Linked DNA regions of Homo sapiens: region 2 is linked to region 1. A link means that fine-mapping ties the variant in region 1 to the expression of a gene that starts in the linked region. Tissue or cell type: atrial appendage. Region 1 holds a variant in brackets; the other region holds the start of a gene. All regions are shown on one strand. Distances are between the middles of the regions. Region 1 overlaps STEAP4 (STEAP4 metalloreductase). Region 2 holds the start of SRI (sorcin).

Evidence for each region.
Region 2: it holds the start of SRI, and the variant in region 1 is fine-mapped to the expression of SRI in atrial appendage (GTEx, PIP 0.95).

The regions. Positions count from the first base shown.
Region 1 is chr7:88,292,536-88,303,422 of GRCh38, reverse strand. All of the region lies in intron 1 of STEAP4 (STEAP4 metalloreductase), which reads left to right. The region is part of intron 1 of LOC124901692 (a long non-coding RNA gene); the gene reads right to left. Among named protein-coding and RNA genes, the nearest start is that of STEAP4, 8.9 kb to the left of the region's middle. The variant C/G (reference allele first, on the strand shown) is at 5,346.
Region 2 is chr7:88,214,870-88,225,756 of GRCh38, reverse strand. SRI (sorcin) reads left to right here and starts at 5,719. Exons shown (of 8, transcript NM_003130.4): 1 at 5,719-5,781; 2 at 6,815-6,898; 3 at 8,566-8,635. The coding sequence starts at 5,731. SRI-AS1 (SRI antisense RNA 1) reads right to left here and starts at 9,097. Exons shown (of 3, transcript NR_120517.1): 1 at 9,000-9,097; 2 at 6,533-7,008. It overlaps LOC124901691 (a long non-coding RNA gene), which reads left to right and starts at 9,173. Exons shown (of 2, transcript XR_007060419.1): 1 at 9,173-9,314; 2 at 10,821-10,887. RefSeq lists silencers at 5,497-5,996, 6,644-6,733.

The DNA of each region.
Region 1 (10,887 bases):
TTGGGTTCAAGCAGTTCTCCTGCCTCAGCCTCCTGAGTAGCTGGGATTATAAGTGCCCACCACAATGCCCAGCTAATTTTTTTATGTTTAGTAGAGAAGGGGTTTCGCCGTGTTGGCCAGGCTTGTCTGGAACTCCGGTCCTCAGGTGATCCATCCGCCTTGGCCTACCAAAGTGCTAGGACTACAGGTGTGAGCCACCGCGCCCGGTTGGAGTTTTTTTTTTTTTTTTTTTTTTTTTAATGCAGATTATATGATCAATCCTAACATCAGGATAAAGTTCCCTTTTCATCTTAAAAGGAAGGAAAATGTTTGCAAAGAGTAATTTTGAAAAGTTAGGAACTATAATTCTAAATAAAAAGAAGGCTAAAAGAAAATAAAACTATATAGCACAGCTCTTGGAAGATTATTAGTAGAATACAAGCTAGTCAGTTTGGCCTCAGCACCCAATTTTTTTTTTTTTTTTTTTTTTTTGAGACAGTCTCACTCCTTCACTCAGGCTGGAGTACAGTAGCGCGATGTCAGCTCACTGCAACCTCCATCTCCTGGGCTCAAGCAATTCTCCTGCCTCAGCCTCCTGAGTAGCTAGAATTAAAGGCATGCACCACCAAGCCTACCTAATTTTTGCATTTTTAGTAGAGATGGGGTTTCGCCATTTTTGCCAGGCTGGTCTTCAACTCCTGACCTCAAGTGATCTGCCTGTCTTGGCCTCCCGAAGTGCTGGGATTACAGGCGTGAGTGACCGCACCTGGCCAGCACCCAATATTAAGGAAAAAAAAATGCATTAAGAACAGAGCCAGGGCTCAGAGAGCTGATGGCACCAGCACTGTGGAGCGTAGAAATAGGAAGGGATAATTAATGGTCATCGCTGATTGTTCATCTTTCATCTATACCTGCTCTTTTTACAGGGTGTGAAAACAGTTTTGAGCTCAAGTTAAATTGTGGCTGCAAAACTTTTGCACAGACTTTGGAAAACTTACTTGTTCCGCTTCCTGGCAGATTCAAGTCCCTCCTAGCCTGTAGGCGCCCATCCTCTCTACACATTCGTCTGCTCTGGCCATTACACTATGCATTGCAACAATTTGATTATATGCTTCATCTTTCCCAAGACCAAAGCTCCTTGAGGACAGGGTCCATCTCGTTTCTCACTTTATCCCTCTTAGTGTGGCTATTCAATAAATCTCTGTTGAAAGCAAGGCATTGCTAATAACACTGATTTTTATTTTTGGAAGATACTTACCTTATGGACATAGTACATAATGAGTATGGATGCTGCCTGCACAATATTAGTTAACAGGGTCAAAGTGCAGTGGCAAAGTCCACATTTTAACTTCCTACCATTCAGGGAGAGGCATGAGGTTGCTTTGAACTGTATAGCACATATAAAGTGAATAGTTGAAATTATTATAACATTTTATTTAAAGTAGAAGAAACTGCAGGAACCTTGGTATTTCCTGATTTAGTGTCCCTATTATGTTGCTATACTGTATTGTAGTTACAAATTTATTTGTAATATTTTGTATTCTAATTCGTTTTAAAGAGTGATATGGGGCCAAACACGGCGGCTCACGCCTGTAATCCCAGCACTGTGGGAGGCTGAGGCGGGCGGATTGCCTGAGCTCAGGAGTTCAAGATGAGCCTGGCCAACATGGTGAAACCACATCTCTACCAAAAATACAAAAATTAGCTGGGCGTGGTGGTGCACACCTGTAGTCCCTGCTACCTGGGAGGCTGAGGTGGGAGAATAGTTTGAACCCAGGAGGCTGAGGTGGGAGAATAATTTGAACCCAGGAGGTAGAGGATGGCACCACCGCACTCCAGCTGTCTGGAAAAAAAAAAAGTGATATGGGGCCAGGTGCAGTGGTTCACACCTATAATCCCAGCACTTTAGGAGGCTGAGGTAGGAGAATCACTTGAGACCAGGAGTTCAAGACTAGCCTGGGCGATGGTAAGACCCCATCTCTACAAAAAATAAAAATTAAAACGTTAGCTAGGTGTAGTAGTGCATACATGTAGTCTCAGCTACTTGGGAGGCGGAAGTGGGAAGATCTCTTGAGCCTGGGAGGTCAAGGCTGCATGAGCCATGATCATGCCACTGCACTCCTGCCTGGGTGACAGAGCAAGACCCTGTCTAAGAATGATATGCTCTTCTCCAGTACCAAAGTACTAAAGTGATTTATTCATCCTATTCAATTCCCTGACATAAGTGGCACAAGAAATGGGAGGAGATTGAGGAGAAAGCAATTAGCTGGTTGGTAAATGGTTCATTGCAGTTAATAATGAAAGTGTGCCAGTTGCCTCTGGTTTTCATAGTTGAGATCCTAAACTGCACTTACCCTAGTTCTGAGGTGTGTCTGAATAACTTTAAAATACGTGCTGGGGATGGTGGTACACAGATGGGTCCCTGTATCTATCTCCCTTAGGGAACCAAGAGTCTAAAGCTATCAGGTTTATAGCTAAAATTGTGTTGATGCCATGTGTGAGGTAGAGAGGGTCTGGAACCTTTGTTGGGGTAGGGAAACCACAAGGATTCTGTTTTCCTAAAGAACTTAGGAGCCTTGTAAGAAGGTGAGGCCATAAGAAAATAGATTTATGCTCAGATTCAGCCAGGACTGGGAAAATGGTATTATCCCATCAGCCCAAATATTTTCCCATTTTTGTGGTCACATTCCAGAGTCTTGGGGAAAAGGGTAAAAGAAGCAGGGGAAGAACCAGTGGTATGTTGGTAAATGCCTCTCTAAGGAAAAAAAAAGTCCTGATTTGTAGCACTTGGTGATTGTCATAAGGTAAAAACTCCTACTGTGACTGATTTCAAGCTCCCAGCTGGCAAGCTGGCCACAGCCACACCACTGAAAGGCTGAGATTAAAAACCTGAAAACTAGGCCAGGCACAGTGGCTCATACCTGTAATTCTAGCGCTTTGGGAGGCCAAAGGTGGGCAAAGTGGCATAGGGGATGTGGAGGGAGGGGCTGATTACTTGAGGCCAGGAGTTTGAAACCAGCCTGGCCAACATGGTGAAACCCAGTCTCTACTAAAAATACAAAAAAAAATGAGCTGGACATGGTGGCACGCACCTGTGATCCCAGCTACTCAGGAAGCTGAGGCATGAAAATCACTTGAACCCAAGAAGCAGAGGTTGCAGTGAGCTGAGATCACACCGCTGCACTCCAGCTTCGGCGACAGAGCAAGAGTATGTCTCAAAAACTAAAATAAAATAAAAACCTTGAAACTAAAAAGAAAGAGCTGTTTATTTTAAAATATTTATCAACTAGCAATGCTCTCAAGCTTGTATATCAGAATATTACAAAAGGTTAGAAGAAGGAATTTCAAGAGCACTTTCTCCCCTGAGGTCAGAAATGGAGCAGCTGCAAGGCCAGATTATAGCCAGCAGCTCCATCTGATGGGTCTCAGCAAACATCAGAGGCACTGGGGCCATGGGGAGTCCTTGCCTCTGAGTGCCGTATTAGAAGTTACCCAAAAGAAGATGAAGTAGGCTATATTCATAAGCATTGTGGACTGCCCCCAGAGATTTCTAAAAATGGTTGGGAGATACCTTAAAGCAGAATGGAGTTCCTCCAACAGCAAGGAATGGGGGTGGGGTCAAGATCCACAACAAAACTGCTTTCTCCAAACTAACTGGCAGTTATTGATATTTAGATAATTCCTATTGGCCTTAATCTAAAGATAAATGCCCATTCTTAAGAAATTTTATTTGAACAAAGTTAATTCAAAATTGAAATTACAAATTACTTCCCAAATATCTCTGACCACAATAGACCTAGAAAAGCAAAACCCACTAATGAACACTAAATATTAGGGGAGTTGATGCAGATCATCAGATTAAGCAAATGCTTATGTAGTATGTACAAGCCAAATGCCACCAAAGCCATGAGATAGAGCTGTTTTTCTGATAGTGGCAATCCACTGGTCCTGGTCATGACCAGATGCCTAATCTTTGGTGACCCACAGATTTGTAAGAAGTTGTTCAGGATTTAAAATGTAAATGGAAGTCAAGGTAAATTAACCCAGAGACACGACTGAATCCCTGACCTTGTTGTCATGAGTCCTGGGCTTTAATCAGATAAACTAACCAGCTTGGACAGCAGATAATGAACCTACCTGATGAAATTCTTGGCCAGAGAATTATAAAACAATCTTAATTTATCTTGACAGATACTGCTGAGATCGAAATGTGGCAACATGTATTAATGAGATTTTTAATTGAACTAGAATTTCGACAAAGAACCTAAATTTAAGATAAATAAGTTTATCCTAAAATACAATTAAAATAGTTAACATAGATCTCTATTACCTCACTTTCCTCATAATTTATAGTGTTAGTAAAATATTACTAACAATCACTTTAGTTGCCGCATATGACATAGTTAGTTCATAGCTAGTTGTTAGCAATTCATGTAGGATACATCTCTATAGAACATTAATGTAAAGATTGCCTTTAATTATGCTCTTGTGACTTGATGAAACTGTGCAAGTTAAGATTACTGTGTTTTTGTGTGCCATTCTATTGTCTAGCATAAAAAATAATCAGCAAATTCAGTTGCTATGGGATACAAAACATTTTCTCACAAAACAATTGAAATAATCAGTTTTTTAGCAACCAACCTGAAGTAGTTTCTTTATGTAGAAAAAGAGCTTTAAATGATATATTTATATTAATCTATAGCAATTAGTAACTTAAGTAGTTACTAGAACTTATTTTGGAAATCACAAGTTGATGATTTATCATGCTACAGGATTGCTCTAATTTTTACTTAAACTGATAGTAAGAGAATGGGCAGCAATATGAACTTATGAGAAGTGCACATGTCTAAGAAATTAGATGTAGGTTCTGAAAATTAGTTTGGATAAGCTTTTGCTCTCTTTAACTCAAGTTCCTCTCCCCCTGGAGTAAAAGGTGTGTGTGTGTGTGTGTGTGTGTGTGTGTGTGTGTGTGTGTGTTTACAAGAACCAGTTTGATGTAATTAGAATTTAAATTTCTAATCAAATTATATTTTAATATCAGAAGAGTTTATCTTAGTTCTAGTTGACATTCAATTAAAAAGGGATACTAATACACAAGCTTGAAGTTTCTTTCCAGTGGACCCTGTTCCTCTGACCACATTCTCCAATTCTCACTCAGTTAAAAAGAGCTACAAATATATAAAAGCATTTCATAATCTTTCATTTCATATGACCCAGCTATTAAATTATCTTTAAATGTCAGTAATAGCTTCTTTACTAATCTAGTTGCAAATTAGGCTATTTTAAATGGAGGGCAGATTGTCCCCAACTTATGTAAGTTAATGGTTCAACTTAAGATTTTTTTACTTGACAATGGCACGATAGCA[C/G]TATGCACTCAGGAGAAACCATACTTTGAGTACCCAAGCAAACATTCTGTTTTTCACTTTCAATACAGTATTCAATAAATTACATGAGATAATCAACACTTTCTTATAAAATAGGCTTCATGTTAGATGATTTTGCCCAACTGTAAGCTAATTAAGTATTCTGAACATATTTAAGGTAGGCTTGGCCAAGCTAAAATGTGGGCAGTTTAGGTGTATAAACTGCATTTCTGTCACAATGTTTTCAACTTATTATGAGCTTATTGGGATGTAACCCCATCATAAATTGAGGAGCAGCTGTATTTTTGTAAGGGTTGCCCTTTGCTACCACAGTTAGTTCATACATATGCACTCACTTTCCCCCCTGCCTGGAAAACTCACCTGCAAACTCCTTCTTGCCTGTCAGGTCTCAGCTTGATTTAAGGTTGCCAGATAAAATACATGATGCCCACTCAAACTTGAATTTCATATTAAAACACATTTGTGTTTTTAGTACAAATGTGTCCCAAATATTGCAGGGGATATACTTACACTAAAAAAGTATTCATTGTTTATCTGACATTTGAGTTTAATCGGCATTATGTATTTTTATTTGCTAAATCTGGCAACCCTCACTTGACTGGCACCTCCTTGGAGAGATTTATGCTAAACAGTTCTCAAAACTAGTCTCCCTCTCTGTCTCCTCCCAACATTTTCTATTCCATCACTCTGCTCTGAATTCTTGTGAACACTTACTACCATCTGAAATTATCTTATTTTTATGTGTGTGTTGTCCAACTTTCTTATAATAATGTACACACACACTGTTTTTGAAGCACACAAATTCAGAGATCAGTCTTAGCACTTTGTAAGGAGATAACATTTCCAAACTCTATATGAGATCTGTATTCTTCACCTCTTTACCCTCAACCTATAGAATAGCATGTGGTACACAATAGGTGATCAATAAATATCTGATGAAGGAAGGTGTTAATGTGTATATTAAAAGAAAGAATTTGAAAATTATACATAAATATCACCAGGAAGAAATTGCCCTTGCAAACAGCACTACTTCTAACTACAAAGCTAAATTTTAAAATATACATTTATATTTTCAAATGACTTATATATGGCTTAAAGATTGAACTGTCCAAAAAATGTTAGAAAAAGCCATTTATTATGGGCATTCTTTTTTTTAATAAACTGTAATCAGTGATCTTTTTAAACCAAGGTCTACTGATTTTGCTACAGTAATACCTACCTGCCAATAAAAGAATATGTAGTTGAATGTGAATGTTTGTTATCCCTAGGGAGCCTTGATCTCACTAAATACAGAAATAGCTCAGTGAATAAATTGGATACGTTTGTGTTTTCATGGAAGGTTTTTATTTTTTTTAATATTTTTTGCTTTCTAATTGTCCCTGGGATATATTAAAACAAATGCTGTGAATCACAAGAAGACTGATATAGTTGCAGAACCCCCTCCTGCCCTTTTGCCTTGTGATGAAAGGAAACATTTGATTGATGGATTTCGGCTCATTACAAATATGTTATCAAGTCATCAAGGGCTTTTGGGTTGAAATTCAGAAAGAATAATAAAACAGAAGGAAGGACTTTAAAAAAACCCTCCTATTTACAGCTGTTAAATTAAAATAAAAAATCCTGTCACATCTTAAACAGTTTGAAGGTGTTATTTGCATTTCAACTCTCTGGAAGGTGCCAAGCCAGATCTCTGATTTGTGTGCTACACTAGTGGTTGTATGTGTCCAGAGGGGATAATGTCTGAGGAATTCAGATGTTTGGATGAATGATTATTTCAGAATTCAAAGCTGAATTCTCAAAAAGAGAAAGAGGCAGAATGATTTTATTAATGGCTTCACCCAACTGATTAGTAACACGTTATCACATTATGCTGTACTATGTGATAGTTGCTATTAGGGGTACCGAGTAGATGTATAAGTAGATCTGATCAAATTATAATTTCATGGCTCTTGGAAGACAACTCTTTAAGGTTTCCTTGAGAGAGTTATGGAACAAACCTTACCTACAGTTTGACAAGTCTTGAATCTGGCATACCTTGAACTCTCTCTTTTCCAAGGCCTGCACACTCAAAACATACTCATTTTGCCTCCGGTTCTCAAAAAGAGAGGAATTCTAGCTTCTCAGCCAAAGAAGACTTAGAGGAAAAAATTGTAAGGAAGGTGAAGTTTCTGCAGCTCCTTACAACCTTAACATCCTGTTCTTCCTCTTATCTTTCCTCTCCCTACCACACCTCTCCAAAATAAAAAGGAAAAGAAAAAGATAACTTTACCTTTTTCCACCTCCAGTGGTTCTCCAAAACGGGTGCTCTTCAGAATCGCTTAAGTTTGTTTTAGTTTGGCTTTTAAAATACAGATGCCTGGGCTCTACCTCAGATCAATTGATTCAGAATCTCAGGAGGTGGTTCCCTAGCATTTTAACGGCTCCTCAGCTGATTCTAATGTGTTACCAGGAAGAAGAACCGCAGTAGCAGGCCATTAAGTGAAAGCTAACATAAAAGCTGATAAAAGCTTTAAGGCAATGGTTCTCAAGCTTGGCTGTACATTTGAATCACCTGGGGGAGCTTAAAAAAGTGCCCAGGCTCTACCCTAGACCAGTTGATTCAGACTCTCCAATAGTCTGGGCCTTCAGGCTCTCTACCTGATTCTCATGTGCACCAGGGTTGAGAACCACTGGTTTCTAGTGTAACCCTTTGCAGAGGTATTTGCATTTTCATAAGCCTTAGTGTAGACCTTTGCAGAGTTATTTGTATTTTCATAAGCAACTAAGAAGTTGCTTCAATGATTAAAGACAGGAAAGGGTGCTAGGAAAACATCTGTCTGTCTGTACCACCACCATGTCCTCTCTCTTTCTGAACCCTTCCAAACCAATCTTTGTAGATAGGTTCTTCTATGCCTACTTATCTAATGACGGATCCCAGCATACTATTCTCTGTTACTAAAAATTATGTTGTGATGATTGAAACTGATGAAAGACTGTTGTCTTTACACTTGTTTTTATAATGATTACCTCCAAAATTTTCATATAAAACTTTTTTACATTTTAAATTTGTATATTTTTGTAAAATTAGGTGAGCTAAGAAACAAGTTAGACTCCTAATGGTGTGCATAAACAATGGTTGAGTCTTTGCATAAAGAAATCTATCTTCATTTGTATACTTTGTGTGTTTTTTAAAAATAAAAGAAATCAGAGGGATTCATGGAGGCTAATTTTCCCTTCCAGGCCTATCTGTACCAAAGAAAAGGGAAGATTTTCTTGCCTTTTCTTTTTCTACAAATGGCATTATATGCATAGGTATTTATATATTTTTATCTTTATGAAATTTCAGGGGGAAACAATTGGCCCATTTTCCAAGTGTAAGAAAAGAAAGTACCACCATTTAGAAGAGATATGGTTAGGTTGCTGATCTTTGTTCTTATTACTAAAAGAAATGAGAAACAGGATCTATTCCAGGGAATGGGAGGGACAAAGGGACCATTTGGCCCCAGGCTGCTTACACACAAAGACCTTCAAAATTGATTTTTACTTATTATTTAAATGAGATCTATGCATATAGTCCATCATATAACTTTAAACTTGTGCCCATTTATTAGATACAGGTTGAGTATCCCACAACCGAAATGCTTGGGACCAGAAATGTTTTGGATTTCAGATTTTTTTTTTTCATTTTAAGTTACTTGCATATACATAATGAGATATCTTGAGAATGAGACCCAAGTCTAAAGACAAAATTTATGTTTCATATACACCTTATACACATAACCTAAAGGTAATTTTATACAAACCGTTTAATAGGTTTGTGCATAAAACAGAGTTTTGACTGCTTTTGACTGCAACCCGTCACATAAAGTCAGGTGTGGAATTATCCAATGGTGGTATCATGTCTGAAAGTTTTGGATTTTAGAGCATTTCTGATTTTATATTTTTGGGTTAGGGATGCTTAACCTGTATCTACACACTGCTATTATGCTTTTGTATGAATTAATTTTTTAGCACAGTCATCTATATTTTTCTCCTAAAACATGAACTGCTTTGCATTGAAGTTTTGGAATATTTTTAAGCATTTTTTTTAATTTAAGCATTTAAAGTACATTTTTTAAAATTTATGACAAGATTATTCTAAAATTTATAGGACTGAAAAGGAACTAGAGTAGCTATAATAGTTTTCAAAAAAAAACATAGTGGGAAGAATCACTGTACCCAATTTTAAGACTTATTATAAAGCTACAGCCATCAACATTGTTGGTATTGGCAGAGGGATAGACACATAGATCAATGGAACAGAATAGAGAATGCAGAAATAGACCCACACCTCTATGTATAACTGATGTTTGACAAAAATGTGAAAGCAATTCAGCAAAAAATAAGGATAGTCTTTTCAACAAATGGTAGAAGAGTAGTTATGTATTCATAGGTCAAAAAATAAACCTTGTCCTAAACCTTACACTATGTATGAAAATTACTTAAAATGGATCATAGACTTATAAGTAAAACTTTTAGAAGAAAACATTCAGGACCTAGGGCTTTGTGAAGAGTTTTTGGGTAAGATACTGAAAGCGCAATCCATGAAAGAAAAAAAATTAAATAAATTGGACATCATCAAATTAAAAAATGTTTGTTTTATGACTTCGGATGTGTTAAGACATGAAAAAAACAAGCTATAGGCTGGCAGAAAATGCTTGCAAATCACATATCTGACAAAAGACTCATATGTAGAATATATAAAGATTGTCAAACTCAACAGTAAATAAACCCAAACAGTCCAATTAGAAAATAAGCAAAATACATGAAGAGACTTCTCACCAAAGAGGACACACAGAGAGCAAATAAACACATTAAGAGATATGCAACATAATTAACCATTAAACAAATGCAAATTTAAACCACAATGAAATATCAGAATGGCTAAAATAAAAAATCATGACTCATAAATACCTGGTAAGGGGTAAATTAGTACACATTCGAAGTCAGTATAGCCAAGTCTTAGAATGCTAAACAAACACCATATGACCCAGAATTTGTATCCCGGGGTCTTTATCGCAGAGAAATGAAAACTTATTTTCACACAAAAACCTGTAGGTGAATACTCATAGAAGCTTTATTTGTAATAGCCAAAACTGGAAACAACCAAAATGTCCTACCTTAGATGAAGAGTTAAACTTTAGTATATCTATACTGTAGAATACCGCTCGGCAATAAAATGGAAGAATTATTGATGGATCTTAAGTATGTTATGCTGAGTGAAAAAATGCTAGTCTCAAAAGGCTTGCATTACTGTGTGATTTTATTCATTCTCAAAATGACCAAATTGTAGTGATAAAGAACAGATTAATGACCTCCACGGGTTAGGGTTGGTAGTTCAGAGGGCAGCATGAGGGATGGTCTAGTCTCTAACCTGATTGAAGTGATGGGTACATGAGCATACACATGAGATAAAATGACATGGAAATATACATGCATATGGCTCCAATGTCAATGTCCTGGTTTGGATATTGTACTCTAGTGGCATAAAACTGGAGGAAACTGG
Region 2 (10,887 bases), 78 kb after region 1:
AGAAAAAACAATGTCTCCAAATTCTTGATCCAATAGAAATTGCATAATCTTAAAAGGAAGAGTCCTGAGAGAATAGCGTGAGGTTGAGAAAAGATCTGAAGTGACAAGATAAGCAATTAATACTGGAATTGCTATTAGTCTGGTAACCTTCAGCAAGTCAGAGTCTCAGTTTCCTCATCTTGTAAAGTAGAAATAATCTAACTGGCATGGCTGGGTAAAGTTTAAGTAGGCCATCAGAAAATACTTTGTAGTCCATAGAGCATTAACTCATCCAGGCCCCTACTCAAAGTACAAAACTGCCCTTTAGCATCACTGACAGCCTCTTCTTGATCACTTCTAGTGATGGGGAACTCATCTTTGGAAGGTCATTTTTGACAGCCCTAATGATAAGAAAGTATATATATAAAGTGTGTGTGTGTTTGTAAAAATACACACATATATTTACATATGTACAATGATATACATACATACACATATATGTATATAGGCATATATATTTAGCCATAATAAATTCCTCCAACATCAGCTTCCTGGTTAATCCTGATCATCAACTCCAGCTCAGAGCTTCATTAAGGGAAGGAACAGGTCAGTGAGAATCTATTCTGTAGGAACAGGAACATGGGAACGTTTGTCACAGAGCTGATGACTGCCCTTGCTGTGTTTTGTTAATAACTGATTTATCTTGCTTATCATGCCTATTCCAGGCAAGTAGAATGAGTTTGCTTTCTCTGAGTTCCAGGGAGGAGGAAGCCAACACAGATGAAAGGGTCCCTGTGCTGTTCAAGAGGGTAGCACTAGCCACACAGCTATTCCATTTTAAATTAAACTAAATTAAAATTTTAGTTCCTCATTTCACAGGCTCAATAGCCATATGTGATTAGTTATTGTGTGGCATAGTTATCAAACATTTCTATTGTAGCAGAAGTTGTTTGAAGAGCTGTGGTTGATGATTCATTACCATCTACAATATGCCAGGGACCAGTTAAACTCTACATGCAAGCACTAAAACATCAATAGTGGAAGTTTTCTATCCCTTGAAAAAATTACATAATAGCATGATTAACTGAGCTCTTACTCCGGACAGTTCAAGAAAAAGGGTGGCTTTTATTCCCAAATGAACATCATAGGCTTCACACTCTTTCCCAACAATCTTAAGAAAGTGGAGATACTATTAATTGGTTACCTATGTTGTTATCAAATGCTCATTTCCACTTACATTTGGAGATCTGAGCTTCTCTCTAAGGCAGAGGTCTTTAAATCATGAGGTGCCACACCCAGATCAGAACTAAACAAAAATTGAAACTTTAAATTGGCAAATGTCATTGCTCATTTCTTCCTAACAAGTGAAGACCTATGGTTAATTCAACTGCAGGTATGGTGAAATAACTACAGTTACTTAGTTAGACACTATTTCTTTCACCACTTATCTGAGCGAAGAAGTCCAGGTTGGATACTATATGTAGAGCTTTATATTAACTTTTCTCCAGGAATAAGAAAGTGTCCACACTGCCGTTTGTCTTGAAAACATAATTAGGGAAGGTGTACCACAAAAGAATGGGATTCTCTCTGAGAGCATGTTTATCTACTGTCACAGCTTTAATTGGGAAGGGTGAAATATCTACATCTGGCTAGGTCTGCTCTTCAAGAGCTGGGGCCAGATATTTGCCATCTCTCAGCCTTGGTCTTTTCTTCTGTAAACAGCAGGATTGGAGTATATGATCAGAAAGGTTTCTGTAATTCCAATGACTTCCCAAAATAACCATGACCTGCATCCTATCTATAAACCTCACATAGTTCTCTCCCTAACCCATGCTGTTGTCACAACCCTCCTACAGTCTTTTTTTTAGGACTTAGTAAATCGTTCTGACAAATAACTGTATTCTACCCATAGGCTTTATCTTACAGTCAGCAAATCATTTGCTAAAGTGCTAAACTGCCAGAGTCATAAGCCCGCATTCTGGAGGGGCTTCCAGCAGTGGTTGGTAAACTACTGCCCAAAGGCCAAATCTGACCCACCTCCTATTTCTGTACATCCAAGAGCTCAGAATAATATTTACATTTTTAAATGGTTGGAAAAATAAAATTAAGCATAATATTTCATGTCATATGAAATTCAAATTTCAGTGTCTATAAATAAAGTTGCATTGGAACCCAGCGACATCCATTCATTTATCTATTGTCTATGGATACTTGTGGCCTACACAGCAGAGTTGAGTGGTATTTGGCCATACCACTATGACTACATAGTCTACATACCACTATGTATGTAGACTCTCTCATACAGAGACTGTATGGCCCACAGGCCTAAAATATTTACTACCTGGCCCTTTACCTGCCCCTGGGTGTAGAGCACAGACTCTAGAGTCAGATGGCTTGGCAGCATAGCTCAGCTCTGTTCTGTTCCTTCCCCTTCCTCAAAACTGTATAATAGGAATGACAATAGTACCTATCCCATGGGTTTTTATTAAGATTAAGCAAATAAGTAAAATGCGATGAGGATCTGGCATATTTTTATTATTATATATATGTCTGATGGTATTATAAGTTGCCACAATTTTTTCCAGCAAACTAAAGTATTAGCAGCTGACCAATTTGTTAGCAATAATTGTAAGAATTGAATTTGCAACACTCCATTAAAATTCAATTCTTTGTCAGATGAGTAGGTAGCGAAAATTTTCTCCCATTTTGTAGGTTGCCTGTTCACTCTGATGGTAGTTTCTTTTGCTGTGCAGAAGCTCTTTAGTTTAATTAGATCCCATTTGTCAATTTTGTCTTTTGTTGCCATTGCTTTTGGTGTTTTGGACATGAAGTCCTTGCCCATGCCTATGTCCTGAATGGTAATGCCTAGGTTTTCTTCTAGGGTTTTTATGGTTTTAGGTCTAACGTTTAAATCTTTAATCCATCTTGAATTGATTTTTGTATAAGGTGTAAGGAAGGGATCCAGTTTTAGCTTCCTACATATGGCTAGCCTGTTTTCCCAGCACCATTTATTAAATAGGGAATCCTTTCCCCATTTCTTCTTTTTGTCAGGTTTGTCAAAGATCAGATAGTTGTAGGTATGCGGCGTTATTTCTGAGGGCTTTGTTCTGTTCCATTGATCTATATCTCTGTTTTGGTACCAGTACCATGCTGTTTTGGTTACTGTAGCCTTGTAGTATAGTTTGAGGGCTAATATCCAGAATCTACAGTGAACTCAAACAAATTTACAAGAAAAAAACAAACAACCCCATCAAAAAGTGGGCGAAGGACATGAACAGACACTTCTCAAAAGAAGACATTTATGCAGCCAAAAAACACATGAAAAAATGCTCATCATCACTGGCCATCAGAGAAATGCAAATCAAAACCACTATGAGATACCATCTCACACCAGTTAGAATGGCAATCATTAAAAAGTCAGGAAACAACAGGTGCTGGAGAGGATGTGGAGAAATAGGAACACTTTTACACTGTTGGTGGGACTGTAAACTAGTTCAACCATTGTGGAAGTCAGTGTGGCGATTCCTCAGGGATCTAGAACTAGAATTACCATTTGACCCGCCATCCCATTACTGGGTATATACCCAAAGGACTATAAATCATGCTGCTATAAAGACACATGCACACGTATGTTTATTGCGGCATTATTCACAATAGCAAAGACTTGGAACCAACCCAAATGTCCAACAATGATAGACTGGATTAAGAAAATGTGGCACATATACACCATGGAATACTATGCAGCCATAAAAAATGATGAGTTCATGTCCTTTGTAGGGACATGGATGAAATTGGAAATCATCATTCTCAGTAAACTATCGCAAGACCAAAAAACCAAACACCGCATATTCTCACTCATAGGTGGGAACTGAACGATGAGATCACATGGACACAGGAAGGGGAATATCACACTCTAGGGACTGTGGTGGGGTGGGGGGAGGGGAGAGGGATAGCATTGGGAGATATACCTAATGCTAGATGACGAGTTAGTGGGTGCAGCGCACCAGCATGGCACATGTATACATATGTAACCAACCTGCACAATGTTCACATGTACCCTAAAACTTAAAGTGTAATTAAAAAAAAAATTCAATTCTTTAGCAGTAAAGCAGTGGGAAGATGTCTAAGGACAACTGATATGCCAATTCGTATAGCCGTTTATCCACGAAGCTAATTCTGCAGTACTTAAAAATATTTTATATGCTTTATACTTCTTTCAAACTTGAGTCTTGAGCTTGTACTCAACATCGAGTTCGGCCCTGACATCTACTCTTTATAGTCGGTTACCTCTTTCTGAAGAAACAGGCTTCCAAAGAGAGACCAGGGGACTCATTAGATGTCTCATCTACCTTGATGATTGCTACCTTGATGATTGAAAACAGTAACCTGCTTCCTGAATCAAACACAAAACAGGCAACATGCAGTGTCTTTGCTATGCCACAACAGGGACTATTAGAATTTTTCTCACAATTCGGACTTTGGTTTTCAAAAGGGCTTGCGAGGGAAGTTACACACAAGAGAAAAACAATGAACCGAATGAGGACAATAGCCCACGAATTTAGAATGGAGGAAGCCCGTCCACCACAGCGAAAAAGCACAGTACCACATTGGCGGGTGCTCCAATATTTGTGAAATGTTGATGACCCTTTAAATGTTTCTGTGCAACCTCCACAACAAATACTGTGAATCTTGCTTATTAATGCGTTTCTCAATACGTTAAAATTCAGGAAATCATTAAGTCTAGTCCTTAACAGTGAAGGGCAAGCAATTTTCTGTCATTGAAATTACACAAAACAAAACAAAAAGCTCACGCCTGAATTGCTTCGGACTATTCAACTGGAAGATAGAAAAATATATGAAGTAAAGAAGAATAACCTACATAGAAGTTCCTATCTCTTATCTTCCTGAATACTTACCAGTACACTATTAGTTTGTTCTAAACTTTTCTTATATAAAAAGTAGCTGAATACTTTTAGGGAAATGGATTGTTTTGTCTGAATCATCCAGATAATTCAAACAATTCATTTTCCTAAGAACGATATGTGTGAGTCTGTCCTGCCCGGAAAATGCCCTCTGTCCTACTCAGGACACAAGTCACGCTCAGCTTAAACAGGCAAGGAATTGTCCCCTAGGAAGGAAATACGCCGTTGTCGTTCAGTGAACTCTGCAACCAACAGCAAGCCAAACTCTCCCTTGCACACAGTTCGTCAAGTTAATTCTTATTTTCCAAGGGCGCTTTCGTATTTCCATCTTTCAAAGACTCCTTCACCCACTGGCACCTAAGGCTTGCCCTAACGCATCCAGCCCCTGCCTCGCGATGGTGCGCTCCGCTTATAATAGCTCCGTCCTGTCCAATAAAGTTGTTTAAAATAAGAAATGTGCCAGATAATAGCCAAGTCCGAAGGAAAAAAAAAAAAAAAGAATTCCTGGGGTGGTGTATTGGTGTTGGAATGTGCCATTAGTTTTGGAGGGAGGAAAGTCCCTGGTGTGAATTGCCTCGCAGGTCGTAGGCCGCCACTGGACCTTCAGTCGTGCACTGCATTAGCGCCGTAATGGCAAAGATACGAAGAAGCGCGCAGGCAGGGGAGCCACGGCCGCGCGCACAGGCAAGAGCTGGAGACGACTGCGGAGCGCGTCCCCCACGCCCGCGTGGTGCGCTCTGGGGCGGCCCCCTAGCGGCAGGGCGGGGCGGGGCAGGGGGCGGAGAGGCCTGGCGCACAGGGCGAGGGCGGCTGCGGCGCAGTCTGCAGCATGGCGTACCCGGGGCATCCTGGCGCCGGCGGCGGGTACTACCCAGGCGGGGTAAGTGCTGACTGCGCGGGATCGCGGCCCAGGCGGCTCCGGGGCGCTAAGAGGCCACCTTGGAGATGCTGCGGCCAGCGGGGTGAGGCGCTGCTGGGCGGCTACCCGGGCTCCTTCCGCCCTCGGCTTCTCCCTGCGCTCGCGGCCTCGCCCTAGGCCCCTGGGGTTCGGCCTCTCCCCACGTTTCCCCGTCCCTTCTCCTGGATGGCCCTGCGGGGCCAAGGTGAGGGTGGATTGGGACCCTAGAAGCCCACCCTGCGGCTTCTCGGATACGCGGCGTGAAATCGTGTTAATTGGGTGTTGGCTGACCCCCACCCCACCCCACCCCCGCCTTCTTGGTTGCCTCCCAGAGCAACAACAGTCATTTTATTCTAGAATGATATACCTTCCTCCCTTTAAAAAACAAACAAACAAACAAACAAACAAACAAACAAAAAACGAGTGAGAAGGGGGACGGAAAAAAAGGGAAAACCTGCTGAAGTAAAAGACCTGTAGGAAGGCAGCCTCGCCGGGCGTCTGGGATGCGCGTTGTCTTGGGAACTGTTTCCGAGACAGGCAATGTTCCCTCGCCACCCACGAGATACAGCCCGGCCGGACACCTTACTCTTCCCTAGGCTACACCCGTCTCAGAATGTTACCAACTCCAGCCTTCCATCGTTCATAAAACGCTCTTAAAATACCATAAATGCTGTAACAACAAAAGGAGAATTTGAAGCCCTGCCATTCGTTGGCTTACCTAGTTTGCACTCACCTCAGTAACCTTCAGGTTAATAGGGATTTTAAAAGTTGCTTTACATATGTAGACATCACTTTCACAGCAACTCTTTATGGTCTAAGTCGCCAGTTTTTAAATTACGGGGTGTGAATGGAAGAGAGGGGTGGAGTGTTGGCAGAGTGTGCCCGGTGGTGGGGAGGTGAGCCTTGTGAAGGGCGGGCAGGCGGGCAGTTGTCTGGCCTTGCACAAAAGCCCTCAGTGGTGAAAGAAGAAAACTTGATTCGGCAGAATGACGTGTATGTGTTTCCTGTTTCACAGTATGGAGGGGCTCCCGGAGGGCCTGCGTTTCCCGGACAAACTCAGGATCCGCTGTATGGTTACTTTGCTGCTGTAGCTGGACAGGTTAGCTTTTCCCTTTAATATTAAAGAGCCGTTATTGTCTGCATTTGTGGTAGCTTTTGATATAGTGACACAGAAAAGCGAACTTCCTGTGGTACTGAGTCCCTTTGCTTCTGCAAAAGAAAAAAAAAGTTGTTTCTTATTTTAGTTTTTTATTTCTGAATGTTCAGAATAAATGAGGACAAAGTGTTACTCGTATTTATGTGAGTTCAGTTCGAAAGCAAACTTGTGGTTGAATTAAAGGGTCCAGGATGGTTTCAAGCGAAAAAATTCAAGATCTGGTAAATATAAACGCTTGTTTGTACAACTTAAAGACATATATTAGTAATTACATAGCTCGATTCTAATGGGCACTTTCTTTGGGTTGAACTTGATTGCTAATCATTCACCCCCTTAGGAAATATGGTAAAAACCCACCAGCTTCTAAATAAGGAAGTTACTGTTCCCTTCTTAGTATCAGAAAGTTAATCTTGTGAACAGTGTAGTTTCTCTTTGATGCAGATGCTGTTACTAGGTCAGCCCCTCCATGTCCTTATTAGGTGTTCTGGCCTGTTGACCCAGAGAAGCAATTAAGGTCAGCTCCCCAAGACCTTTCACTTGTCTGCATTCTGAGTTGTATGACAGGTGCTATCTTACATTGACAGGTGCTATCTTACATTGAGAGAGGACACTTCCCTAGTTCATGAGGTCACTGTGTGCAGTAAATATACTGTTGGTATAACCCAGACACGTCCAGAGGAGATGTTTGTTCTTATGAATTCAACCTAGTTTTGTTTTGACCAAAAGCTAGAAATAGCAAAATCTTAATGTGAAAACTGTAGAATATTATGGGATAAAAAACCTAAGACCACTTTTAAGGTAGTACTCTAAGAAATACAGCTTAAGAAATTGAATGGAAAATATAGTCTAAAACTGGAAGACCTTCCCCTTAAGTATCTACTTAAACTGTTAATGATCTGTATCTTTGAAACCACAAGGCATGGCAAACCTCAAGACTAGCATTCTTAGATTGCCAGTGCCTCCAGCATGTAAGTGACTCCACCTGCTTAGCTTTCAGCAGCCCTGGCCTGTATTCAGCATACCCATTGTCTTTCAAATTGCTGATCTTGCTCCTCATTTATAACTTATAATACCCAGTGACTTGAAGATTTAGGTATTTTATTTTAAAGTCCCTAAAAATCACATATATCTAGTTCTTTCCCAGTTCAGCCAGTGAATGGGCACTGGGAACCTAATGTGAATCTTCCAGATGTATTTGTGCTCTGAAAAAAATGATTCACTATATCATAAGAAAAAGTGACCAAGGAGGCCTTTTTCTGTTTGAACCAAGCCTTCTATTTATTGATGTCTGCTTTGTACCTTGCTCTCTCCACCCCCATCAAAAAAAAATATTTTAAAATGTTTAGCTGTAGCAGTTTGCTAGCTCAGATTGAGAGAAGAGTAGTTGCCAAGACAGACTCTTTCTTTCATCATTAAATTACTTTTGGAAGTGGGTTAAGGAAAAGAATGCCCACTTTTGGAAGGCATTCCTTTTAATAAAAAAAAGGCATTCCTTTTAAATAAAAAAAAGATACTGATTTTCTTTGTTGTTATTGCTTCATTGAATGCTGAAGGTAAACAACTTGAAAGTACAAATCACTATTATGATTCCTCTAATTTTTTTTCAAAAGGATGGGCAGATAGATGCTGATGAATTGCAGAGATGTCTGACACAGTCTGGCATTGCTGGAGGATACAAACGTAAGTTGACAGTCCCAAAGTTTGTCTAAATATACTCTTGTGTTTCCTATCTTAGCTGTTACTTGTGATTACAGCCTTCAAGAAAACTGAGCTTGTCGGATCTAGCAAAGTTTAGAATTCCGAAAGCTAAAATACAGTACTATTTCAAAATGTTGATTTGAAAACAGTTTTTAAATCACTCCAGGCTGGGCACAGTGGCTCACACCTGTAATCCCAGTACTTCAGAGGCCCAGGCAGGAGGATCGCTTGAAGCCAAGAGTTTTTGGCTGCAGTAATCTATGATTGTACCACTGCACTCCAGCCTGAGCAACAGAGCAAGACCTTGTCTTTAAAATAATAATAATAATAAATTATTCCATCCTACCTGCCAATCTAGTGGATTTCTCAGATTTGGGTTTTGTGTACCTAGAACCAGTGAGACAGTTTGGGTGGCCTCCTTCACAGAGGACAAGGTAGGGTGCTGAAATGGAATCTGCCAGGTCAGGGGTCATTAACTGACATTAGGAACTGATATTTACTGTTATTTGCCAAGAGCCTACTCTGCCCTGACCTGGTGGCACTTAGGGCTTTGAGTTGCTGCCCTGCACCCCTGGTCCCTGAGTGGCCTATCCTGCACTCCTGGTCTCTGAGCTTTGGGCATGCTCCTGCTAACATAAGTGGTTGCCATGACATCCCTCAGGTCTTTCCTCTTCCACTTCATAGAATGTATTCAGGCTAAGTGGGAAGTGGCCTTTCTACTTACTGGACCTGCTGCTCCATAATTCAGCCCTTACCCTACCCCTGCCTTTTGAACACTCTGCCATGAGCTGAGAGTAATGAAATACTGCAAAGATGCTCCATCCCTGGCAGGGCACAGTGGCTCACACCTGTAATCCCAGCACTTTAGGAGACTGAGGTGGGAGGATTGCTTGAGCCCGGGAGTTCAAGACTAGCCTGGGCAACATAGTGAAACCTTGTCTCTGCAAAAAATTTAAAAATTAGCCAGGCATGGTGGCATGCACCTGTGGTCCCAGCTACTCAGGAGGCTGAGGTGGGAGGATTATACAAGCCCAGGAGGCGGAGGTTGCAGTGAGCCAAGATTGTGCCACTGCACTCCAGCCTGGGTGACAGCCTGTCTCAGAAAATCCAAAAAATTGCTGCATCCCAACTGGGGGCTTCTCATCATCCAACACATATGAAGTGGTTCCTCTTGAAATTAGATCTTGAACATGATAGATTTCCAGGGTAGAGAATAATGTCTTAGTTCAAATACATTACCAACTTCTTTGCCAGTTGTTAATTGAGACAAAACATCAAATTGAAGACCCAATTTCATGGTTAGCTGTGGATTAAAATGTTCAAACTAGAATTCACAGCTGTGAATTTATAGTGGCCTTTTTTTAAAAACTATTTGACATGGCATGTATTAGATGGCTGTCTTTGAACTCTTTGCATTTGTTTTCATTATCCTTTGTTTTATGTGACTTTAGTATCCTATTACTCTTTCCTAATTAGAGGAATTAATACAAACGAAGAACCTTTCAAGTTCCTGTTATTTAATCTAGTCCTAAACAAAATAAGCACTTTTTGGATTAGGGGATGTTATTCTTTACTGTGTAGGCAGTACATTTAAATTGTTAATTGTTACGCAATTGAGCTGGTAAACAAGGTAGGCCTGCCTATTAGCAGGGTTTATCAAAGTGCAGTGAGATCACAGCATGGCCTGTTATTCTACATCCTTTCAGTAGATGAGGTGTGGCAGATTTTAGAATCTGACTAACAAAATGGGTTGTATATTGTTAGAGAGCAGTCCTTTTAAAATTTCATTGAGAAAGCCACATTTAGTGATGGCCTTAGATCAATGCATTAAAGAGAAAGCATTTCCTGAATCATGGGGCCTATGTGATTGAATCCATTTGCCTACTCTCTGGTGGCCGTACTGAACCACAGAACCATCCTGCCTATGAGGTGTCAGTGTTTTGTAATGCAGATATTATATGGCCATTAGTCTTTTAAACCCAACTTCCAAACCAAAAAGCACAGGTCCGAATTGGATGAGCAGGTGGGATACTCCAGCTCAGAGCCTATGGGCCCTTCTTAACCAGTTTAAAAGGAAGCAGTCATACCTAGAGGTGGAGTTGGTGAGAGAAGTTGTGTTCCAGTCAGTAAGATTGTAATTCAGCTTCTCTTTTTTCCCTGAATTTAGTTGTTCGTCTGTGATAAGGTTGAGAGAAACAGCTGGAGGTAGGGCTTTCCTTCTAGGTCCATTATAT